2 separate regions of the Homo sapiens genome follow, and region 2 is linked to region 1. A link means that fine-mapping ties the variant in region 1 to the expression of a gene that starts in the linked region. Tissue or cell type: sun-exposed skin. Region 1 holds a variant in brackets; the other region holds the start of a gene. All regions are shown on one strand. Distances are between the middles of the regions.

Region 1 (4,205 bases):
CCTGAGCAGCTGGGACTACAGGCACGTGCCACCACACCTGGCTAAGTTTTGTATTTTTAGTAGAGATGGAGTTTCACCATATTGCCCAGGCTGGTCTTGAACTGCTGACCTCGAGTGATCCTCCCACCTCAGCCTCCCAAAGTGCTGGGATTAGAGGCATGAGCCACCACACCCAGCCAGTAAGATTTATTTAAATGAAGAAATAGAGTTGTGTTGCGTGGAGCCCCTAAATTCTGGAAATCTGTTACAGCAGCCGCAGGAAGCTAATACTACCAGCTGATAAGTGGTGGAGCTAGATGTTGAACCCAGAGTGGAGGGCTGGTTTCCAGCCTGCTCTCTTGGCCTGGCGTGGCTGTGCCTGCCACTTTCTCTGCCTCTTGTCCCACTCCCTGCCTGTGTTTTCTGAAGGGCGGCTCCATAGCTTGGCGGGGGGAAAGCCTGGTGAGGACGGGAGAGAAGATTCAAGCCAGGGCCAGGGGCTGGGTTTCAGTTGCTCTACTCCCCCGCTCCTCCAACTCCAGCCTCCCGCTTCCTGTCCCTCTCCCACAGGGAGGCGAGCAGAGAAACACGCCTACAGCAGCCCATTTTTTGGGGGTTCATGTTGGGGGCAGGTCTGTGCTGGCTGTCAGAGCTGGGAGTGTGGAGAGCACTGCGGCGGCACAGCTGACACCGCCTCTGCCAAGGTCCACGCAGCCTGGCTGCCTCCACGCTTCACTGGGTTTTTCCTTCCTGGCTGCTGCATCATTTGATGCAGGGGGAGGGGTGGGATGAGGGGGTGTCTTTGGGTCTCTCCTCGGGGGGCCCCTGAGGTTCTGTGTGGCTATCTCAGGGTAGGGGGTGTCTGGGTGCCTGGTGTGGGGAGGATCCGAGGGCCCTGCCCCTGTGGTGTGTGTGGGTGGGGGGTGTCCCAGACACTGTGGCCCTTTCTGGGCAATGTGTCTCTCAGCCCCTGCGTGTGAATCTGGAAACGTGAGCATGCGAGTATGCCTGTGTGTGTGTGTGAATTTGTTGTGACTGTGTGTGAACATGTGTCCCTGCACCCTGTGCTCACTCATTCCTCTGTGTGAACATGTGAGTGTGCAAATGCGGCTGTCTGCTTGTTCTCCTGTATGTGACTGTGTGAACACGTGGGAGCACATGCCTCCTCACACCCTGCATGTGAATGTGTGTGGACATGTGAGCATGTGAGTGTGCAGACACACCCACTCATGCCCCCACGTGTGGATGTGTGTGTCTCTAGATGTCCTTGTGGGAGTGAGTGTTTGAGCATGACTACTTCCTCCTCTGTGTGTGAACATGTGCGTGTGTGTGTGAGTGTGTGGCTGGGGAAGCGCCACGCCCCAGCCATCCAGCATTGCCTCATCCCTGTGACACAGCCGCTAATGACTGTTTGCCATTGTCTGAGCGGTGGTGGCATCACCCGCACTAATGACAGTCTCCCCTGCCTAATGACCTGGCTCCTGCCCCATTATTTAGGAGCCTCAGGAGCACTGGCCCTGTGACCAGAGAGATGTTGACCAGCTCAACACATTTCCCTTTGGGGTGTTGCGGGGGGGTGGGGAAGTCATAAATCCCACCCCTCCCCGACAGCCCTCAGGGTGCCGGCGTGGGCTGGAATTTCAACTGGCTGATGGCATCCTGGGCGGGAAGCCCCAGGTCTGG[C/G]CCTGCCCTCTGTCTCTGGCAGAGCTGGGCGGCTGCTGCCCCTCCCCACAGGTGACCCTGGACCCTGGCAGCCAGATCCATATCAGGTTCCAAAGACAGGGCTTTCCTTTCCACCGTGAAACCCTCAGGCCGTCTCACCTCTGCGAATGGAGATGTCCCTTCTGAGCAGGGCTCTCTGTGCCCAGGAAGCTCTGATCTGCAGCTGACCTTGGGGAGCGAGGGGGTCTGGAGCAGCCAGGGAACCACAGGGTCCAGAGCAGGCTGCCTGCGTGGAGGCCACAGCAGAGCCTGATTCAGCCACACCGTCAATATTTCTTTTATGATCATCATTAAATTAAAATAGCCTCTGGATTATGGAGGAGAGCTGGGCAAGGGGGCTGCCCCCTTTCTGTGAGCCCACAGCCACAGCCATTTCTTCATATTCTCTTCTGGCTTTCAATCTGCTCCTTCCCATTGATGTTCCCCACTTACAGGCAGGCCTCCTCCTACCTGAAGTTTACCTGGATCTGCAGGGAAGCCTAGGACTCTGCCTGGGGCAGGAGGGACTCCTTAAAGGTGTTCTGGGTTGAGAGATGCAGGCCTGCAACTAGCTGTGAGACCTTGAGCCGGGGGTTGGGGGAGCCGCGGTCTCCTCTGCCAATGCAGATGCAGCGGTACCTGCTCCCTAGGGCTGCTCTGGGGAATAGGTAAGCGCTGAGCATTATATAAACCATTCAGCATTATATAAACCATATAAACGTTGCCGGCACACAGCAAGCACATAGTAAATCTTTTTAAAGCCTCTGAACCTGCATTGCCTCCTCTCCAAAATGGAACAGATAATTGCTGGTGCTCATGGCTGTCGTGAGGATAGTGAGAATCCAGGGGAAGCGCCTGCTGCGGAGTGGGGCAGCTCCGGCATCTTTCTCATGGAGTCCTCGGCTTGGCAGCTTCTCTCCTCACCCATGAGGGTCTGAGCGGGGGAAAAAGGAAGGAGTGGTTGCATTGGCTGTTTTCATTGCTGCCTCAGTGTCCCTGTCCTGGTGGGGCACTCCCTCACTTGCCAGCCAGGGACTGTGGCTTGCTTACATTACTTATAGCGGGACTCATCTGTGACTCACTAGAGGGGCGTGAGGAGAGAAAACCAGCCCAGTGCATTACAGAGTATCGTTTTGTAAATGTATGTGTCTATTGGTTGCTGTAAAATGTATTTCTTACTGTGCGTTGAGGTTAAGAAGCTGGAGACACCTGCTCCACTGTCTCTGGGCGGGGCAGAAGCAGGGGCCTGGGGACTCCCTGGTTTTGCTTTGCTCCTCCTCTGCTCCATCATGAGATTCGCACTAAGCGCCCATGTGTGCTGTCCTGGCATGGCTGGGCCCCAAAATGCGAGAGCCCAAGTCCAGCTGGAGACACATCCCTTCCTGCCCCCAACAACCCACAGAAGTGCCCCCTCATGCCATGTGCCTGGGAAGGCCCACACCTGACATCCAAGGTGCTATGCCACCCAGGAGCGGCCTGCAGGCTAGAGGGTGCTGCAGGATAGGCAAGGGTACAACGGAAGGCCTCCCAGGCTTGCCTCTCATCTGGACCTAGGCCCAGATGAGTTTCAGGGCTGAGCCAAGCTGTCCCTGAACCCTGCTCTTTTCCTCATGATGCTGGACACTTAGTCAACCAGCCCACGGGTAGGGCGAGGGCATCAGAAAATGCTTCCCACAAAAGCAGACCAGTTGGTGGTGGGGGCCCTGCAACCCAGGCATGGTTTTTTTCCTTCCCCCAACACAACAGCCACACCCTCAGTGTGGGCCTAAGTGAAAGCTAATGGTGGGCAGGGGCAAGGGGTGTTGGGGCACCCCAATAGCAGTGGCTGCCATTTACTGAGGGAGACCTCTGTGCCAGGCGCAGCACAAATCAACTTCAATCTTTATGACTCTCTTAAAGTGTTCATATCTATAAAAAGGGTGCTCATTTTATAGATAGCAAAGCTGAGGTCCAGAGCAGTTATGTCCACACAATTAGTAAGTGCTGAGAATCAATCCTGGGTTGGTCTCTCTCTGCATCCTTCTGTGGCTTCTGAGGGAGAGACTCATGTGTGTTACTGGGGACACAGCGCTGGCACACAGGCTGGTTCCAGAGGCCAGGAAGAGGGAACTTGGTCTTGGAAGGCTTTGCAGTACACCAGCTGGAGAGGCTTCCTTTGAGGAGAAGCTGACCTCTTCCAGGTACTCCCCAGAGATTCCTTTCCCAGTATAACCTTAGCTGGGGCCTCCCTGGCAATGAAGGCAAGAACTTGCTCATGGGGAGAGCTGCTCCTCATTGAGAGTTTTATCAGTGAGATTCCTTGATTATCAAGAGGAAAAAATTGCAGCAGGGGAGATGTGACTTAGATTCCAAAGTCTTCTTTGGCACTCCTTAAGGGCAGGGACTAATCCTCCAGGGACTAAACTTCCAGCAAAATAGGCTTAATGAACACTGGAGACTCTCGCAACTAGTGATGACTGTGGCATGTGTAGCTCTGTGAGAACATCTGAAAAGTAATACATAAATAAGGGCAAATGAGTACAGGG
Region 2 (4,205 bases), 6.9 kb after region 1:
TGTCATCAACACGTGAGGGGCGTGTTTCCTGGAGAGGGAGAGCTGCTTACCAGCTCAGTCGGGAAGTGGGAGGATGGACGGCCCACGGTGGGGTCTCTGTTCAGGCTTGTGTGTGAGCACCTGTGTGTGCATCATGTGTGTGTGCCCAGATATGTGTGTCCACAGTCTTTAGTGAGGCATCTTCTGCCTCCACGGGCTCTGAGATCTCCAGCAGTGTCTGTTATTGCGAGCACAGGTCCCCCCGGAGAGGACTGTTTCCTTTGCTGATGGTCTGAAAGGTACTTTATGTTCGGATGCAGTGCTGTCTTGATTGGGGACCATTCTTTTTCCTCAAATGTCCTCCAATTTGGCAGACCATGTATTCCAATCTGGAAAACTCCACCCTTACTTTCAGGAATTTTTCTCTGCCCCTTCTCTAAGGACCTCCATTCCCTTTGCCTTTCCTTGAGGATAAACGCCTTTCCTTGATATGACTCGTTCGTCCCTGCTGCGTTCCAGCTTCCACAGGATTGGATCCACTGTAGCGAGTCCACACATGCTTAGTAGCACGGATGCAGGGGGAGAAGGGGTGCATGAATGACTGTGTGTGGCTGAGGACAGCCCTCGGGTGCTCTCTGTCAGGTGTCATGTTGGCAGCTGGCCCTGTCTGCCCTTGGTGTCCAAGCCTGTGCCCCGTGTCAGGGTCTGGGGTCAGATTCTGTGTTTCAAGATCCAATAGCAACACACACACACAAATTCCTGGATGTCAGGGCCAGGTGGGACCCCAGAGACCACCTAGGTGCATCTATCCTTCATTGATATACAAGGCACCCCCCAGAGAGGGAAGGGCCTTCCTTGCCCAATATCACACAGGAAGTTGAGGGGATACAGCCGGGTCTCCTGACTCCTAGTCACAGCTCTCTTCACCATTCCACATTCTCTCCCTAATTTTGACAACCCCCTGTCCCTTCCTCTCTCTCTCTCTTTGCTGTCATCTCTGTACTTTTCTCATGCCCTCCCCTTTCAGAACCTGCCCATTTCTCAAGGCCTATCCTGGCCCTCCTTCACTCTGGAACCTGCCTGATTCCTCTCCCCTAACTTCTTCTGCACCATTAGTGACAAGTCCTGCTAATTCTCATCCCCTAATTGTCTGTAACACAAATTAATGCTTGATTACTTGATGCTCTAATGACCTGGGCTCTAACCAGGCTCAATTGCTTTCTAGCTGCGTGACCTTGGGCTACTTACTTAACGTTCTTAGTCCTCTGTTTTGTCATCTGTAAAGTGGGGCTGGCTTTTGAGCCTGAGTAAATAGCAGAAGCCAAGACTCAGAGGGGTAAACTTCAAAAACGGCAGTGTTAAAATCTAAGGGCAGTGTTAAAATCTAAGGTGTGATGGTGGTGTGTTGGGAGCAGTGGTGAGAAGGCAGGCAGGGGTCAAACTGGGGGAGCCTCAGCTGTGGGGGGCTTATGTTATTGGTAATGGGGCTTCCATGAGGCTTTTTGGAAGGGAAGTAACAAACCCCTACCTAGAGCTTGAAGTGGGGTAGAAAGGGCACCGGCTTTGCAGCTGGCAGATCTGGATTGAAATTCCAGCTCTACCACTGACTAGCTGTGTGATGCTGCACACATTGCTAGATCTCTCTGAGCCTCCTTTTTCAATCTATAAAATAAGGATTATACTCACCCTATGGAATTGTGGTAAGGATTAAACAAGAAAAGGTCTATTAATTGCTTAGCTTGGAGTCTTGCACTTAGTAAGTACTTAACAAGGAGTAGCCGTGATTACTGGTGCTGTCGTCATTACCCAGCAGCGCGTGTCTGCCTCCTGACCTGCCTCTGTCCTGGGTCTCTCTGGGCCCTGGGTGTCAGGCTCATTCCTCATTTCCCAACCTGGAAGCTTCCCAAGGGCAGGGCTCACATGCATCATCTTCTCGCTCTGGCTGTTTCAGGAAGTGATGGGAGTGGGGAAGGCTGTTGAACTGGTGATGTCACAATTTGGGGCTTCTGGGTGGTTCTGCAGAGGCCCCAGGGACCTGTAGGCAGGTGGAGAGGGGATGGGGGAGGTCTCAGGTCCTCTTGCTCACCCATCAGCTGTGTAGTGTCTGAAGTGATTAAGGAGCTTGGGGAGGTTGGTGTTGACAAGATGTTAAGCCATTTCTCCCAGGGACAGTCCCTGGGGCCTCAGGCACTGTGGTGGGCCTACCACTGCTCCGGAACCCCATGGTGGGGGCAGGCCCGTCCCCCAGAGAGGGAGCATGGAGGTGGGAGCTGAGGGGAACTTGACTGACAGCTTCCCCACCCCCGGCTGAGTGTCTCCTTGGCCCATGCGGATGGAGGGGGGAGCCAGACCACACTATCAATGAAATAATTAGAGCCTAATGTTAGACAGTGTTTCTTTAACACCTACTAGGGGTTCACGGGTGTGCTGGGTGCAGAGGACAATCATTTGGCAAGGTTGGCTGGGCCCCTGCCTGCAGAGAGGTTACAGTTTAGAGGAGGATTCAGACAAGCACACAGAGGATACGCACCAGGAAGGGAGGAAGCCTGGGGGCTACGGGAGCCCTGAGGGGTGCACTTGGCCTCTCTAGAATGGCCGTGTGAAGTTTTGTAAGGGTGAGACATAGCTGGCCCTGTAGGCTGAGCCAGGGACATGCAAGCAGTTGTGTGTTTGGAAAGCAGACCAGGGTGTTAAGAGGGTCGTGTGGAGGTGATGGTAGGGGGTGACAGTGGCTGGAGATGAAGCCAGAAAAGTATGCGGGGCTCTTGAATGCTGACATGAGGAGTGAGCTTTCTGTTCCAAGGGAAGCTGGGAGCTGTTGAAGAGTTTTAAGCAGGAAGGGATGTGGTCAGATGCAGGGGCTGCAGTGCTATGGGAATGGGGAGGATTGCGAGGGGTCTGCCTTTGGGTTTCATGGAGCAAGGGAGTGATGGCAGGGGCATGCTCCTGCAGAGGGAGGAGGGGATGGGGTGTGTGGGTCTAGAGCAGGCAGTCTGAGGTGGGCCTGCCCAGGTGAGAGGGTGTGGGGACTCCATCAGGTCGGAGTTTGGAGCCCAGGGCAGGGCTGAGGGAGGGGGAAGGGTGAGGTGGAGGGCTGGACTGCAAGACCAGGCAGGGGAACCGCGGCTTCAGCTCTGCCAGCACTTCCCTTAGGCCTCCCAGGCTGGTCTGCTCCACTGGCCCTCAGAAAGACTTGTCGCCTCGCCGAGCCTCAGTGTTCTCATCTGAAGAATAGAGTGGGCAAGGCCTTTCTCCTACACACTCAGGTGTCTGATTAGTGAACAGTCACGGTGTCTCCAACTGGGCCCTGAGTTATGGGAGAGGCAAGCCCATGACCCACCAGGCCCCACCAAGAGCCGTGCCACAGCCTGAGGTGGGCTCTCGGTGTTGACCAGCTCTTGGAGTACTTCAGGAGGAGGTGGAGGGACTGGGGAGTTCTAGGAGTGTGTCCATGATAAAGAGCCGCAAACAAGATCCCAGGTCCAAGGCTGCCTCACCTCCCCTGTGACATGGGGTGCTCTCTCAGACCCTTCCAGCTCATTGGGCTTTTGAGCCACCCCTGCGTAGTGGGACCAGGGCCCCCAGGGCTGGGAGGACAGGGAATATGGGGTTGTAGCTTAGGCGTAATGGGGTGAGGACCCCAGGACTCACCCAGCTCTGAAGGTTGCCAGATCTTTGCATCTTACTGTTCATCTTCTGCCTCTGCAGAGCCCTGAATGGGAAGAAATGGGTTCCATGTGCAGCAAGCCAGGAGAGATTTAGGCAACGAGAACCTCCAGTTCTGTCTTAGGGTTCCCAGCTTTCTCCTTGTCCTGAGGGAGCCGCTGAGCCTGTGGGAGATGAGGGGTGCCCATTCCCCAGTGCTTCTCACCCTCCCCCACCTGCCCTCCTGGGGTACCTTTGTCTGCCACTTGCATCCTATTGGAAGCTGTCCCCAAGTGCGTGTTAGGCAGGTGGCAGGTGCTGGAGCAGAGTGCACCACCCTCCGGCGATCACTGTGAGTTGGGGTAAGAGTGGGGTGTTCCTGCCAGCCCCAGGAGAGGGGAAAGCAAGCCCCCGTCCACCCTTGTGGGTCTCTGCTCCTGGAAAAGGTGCTCTAGCAGGCTCATCTGTGTGAGTCACTGTCTTCCATGTGGGGTAAGTTGAGCCCTGCCTTTTGGATCTCAAAATCCAGGGATGCCGACATCCTGGGTCTGGAGAAGGGAGGAGGCACAGGGCAGCAGAGC

What was found.
Region 2: LINC00592 starts here. The variant in region 1 is fine-mapped to the expression of LINC00592 in sun-exposed skin (GTEx, PIP above 0.99). The same link has a PIP of 0.9 or more in unexposed skin.

Annotation. Positions count from the first base shown.
Region 1 is chr12:52,202,015-52,206,219 of GRCh38, forward strand. LINC02874 (long intergenic non-protein coding RNA 2874) reads right to left here. Exons shown (of 3, transcript NR_164133.1): 3 at 2,809-4,165. Among named protein-coding and RNA genes, the nearest start is that of LINC00592, 6.8 kb to the right of the region's middle. The variant C/G (reference allele first, on the strand shown) is at 1,663.
Region 2 is chr12:52,208,912-52,213,116 of GRCh38, forward strand. LINC00592 (long intergenic non-protein coding RNA 592) reads left to right here and starts at 2,019. Exons shown (of 5, transcript NR_027358.2): 1 at 2,019-2,109; 2 at 3,133-3,245; 3 at 3,688-4,116. LINC02874 (long intergenic non-protein coding RNA 2874) reads right to left here. Exons shown (of 3, transcript NR_164133.1): 2 at 3,631-3,691.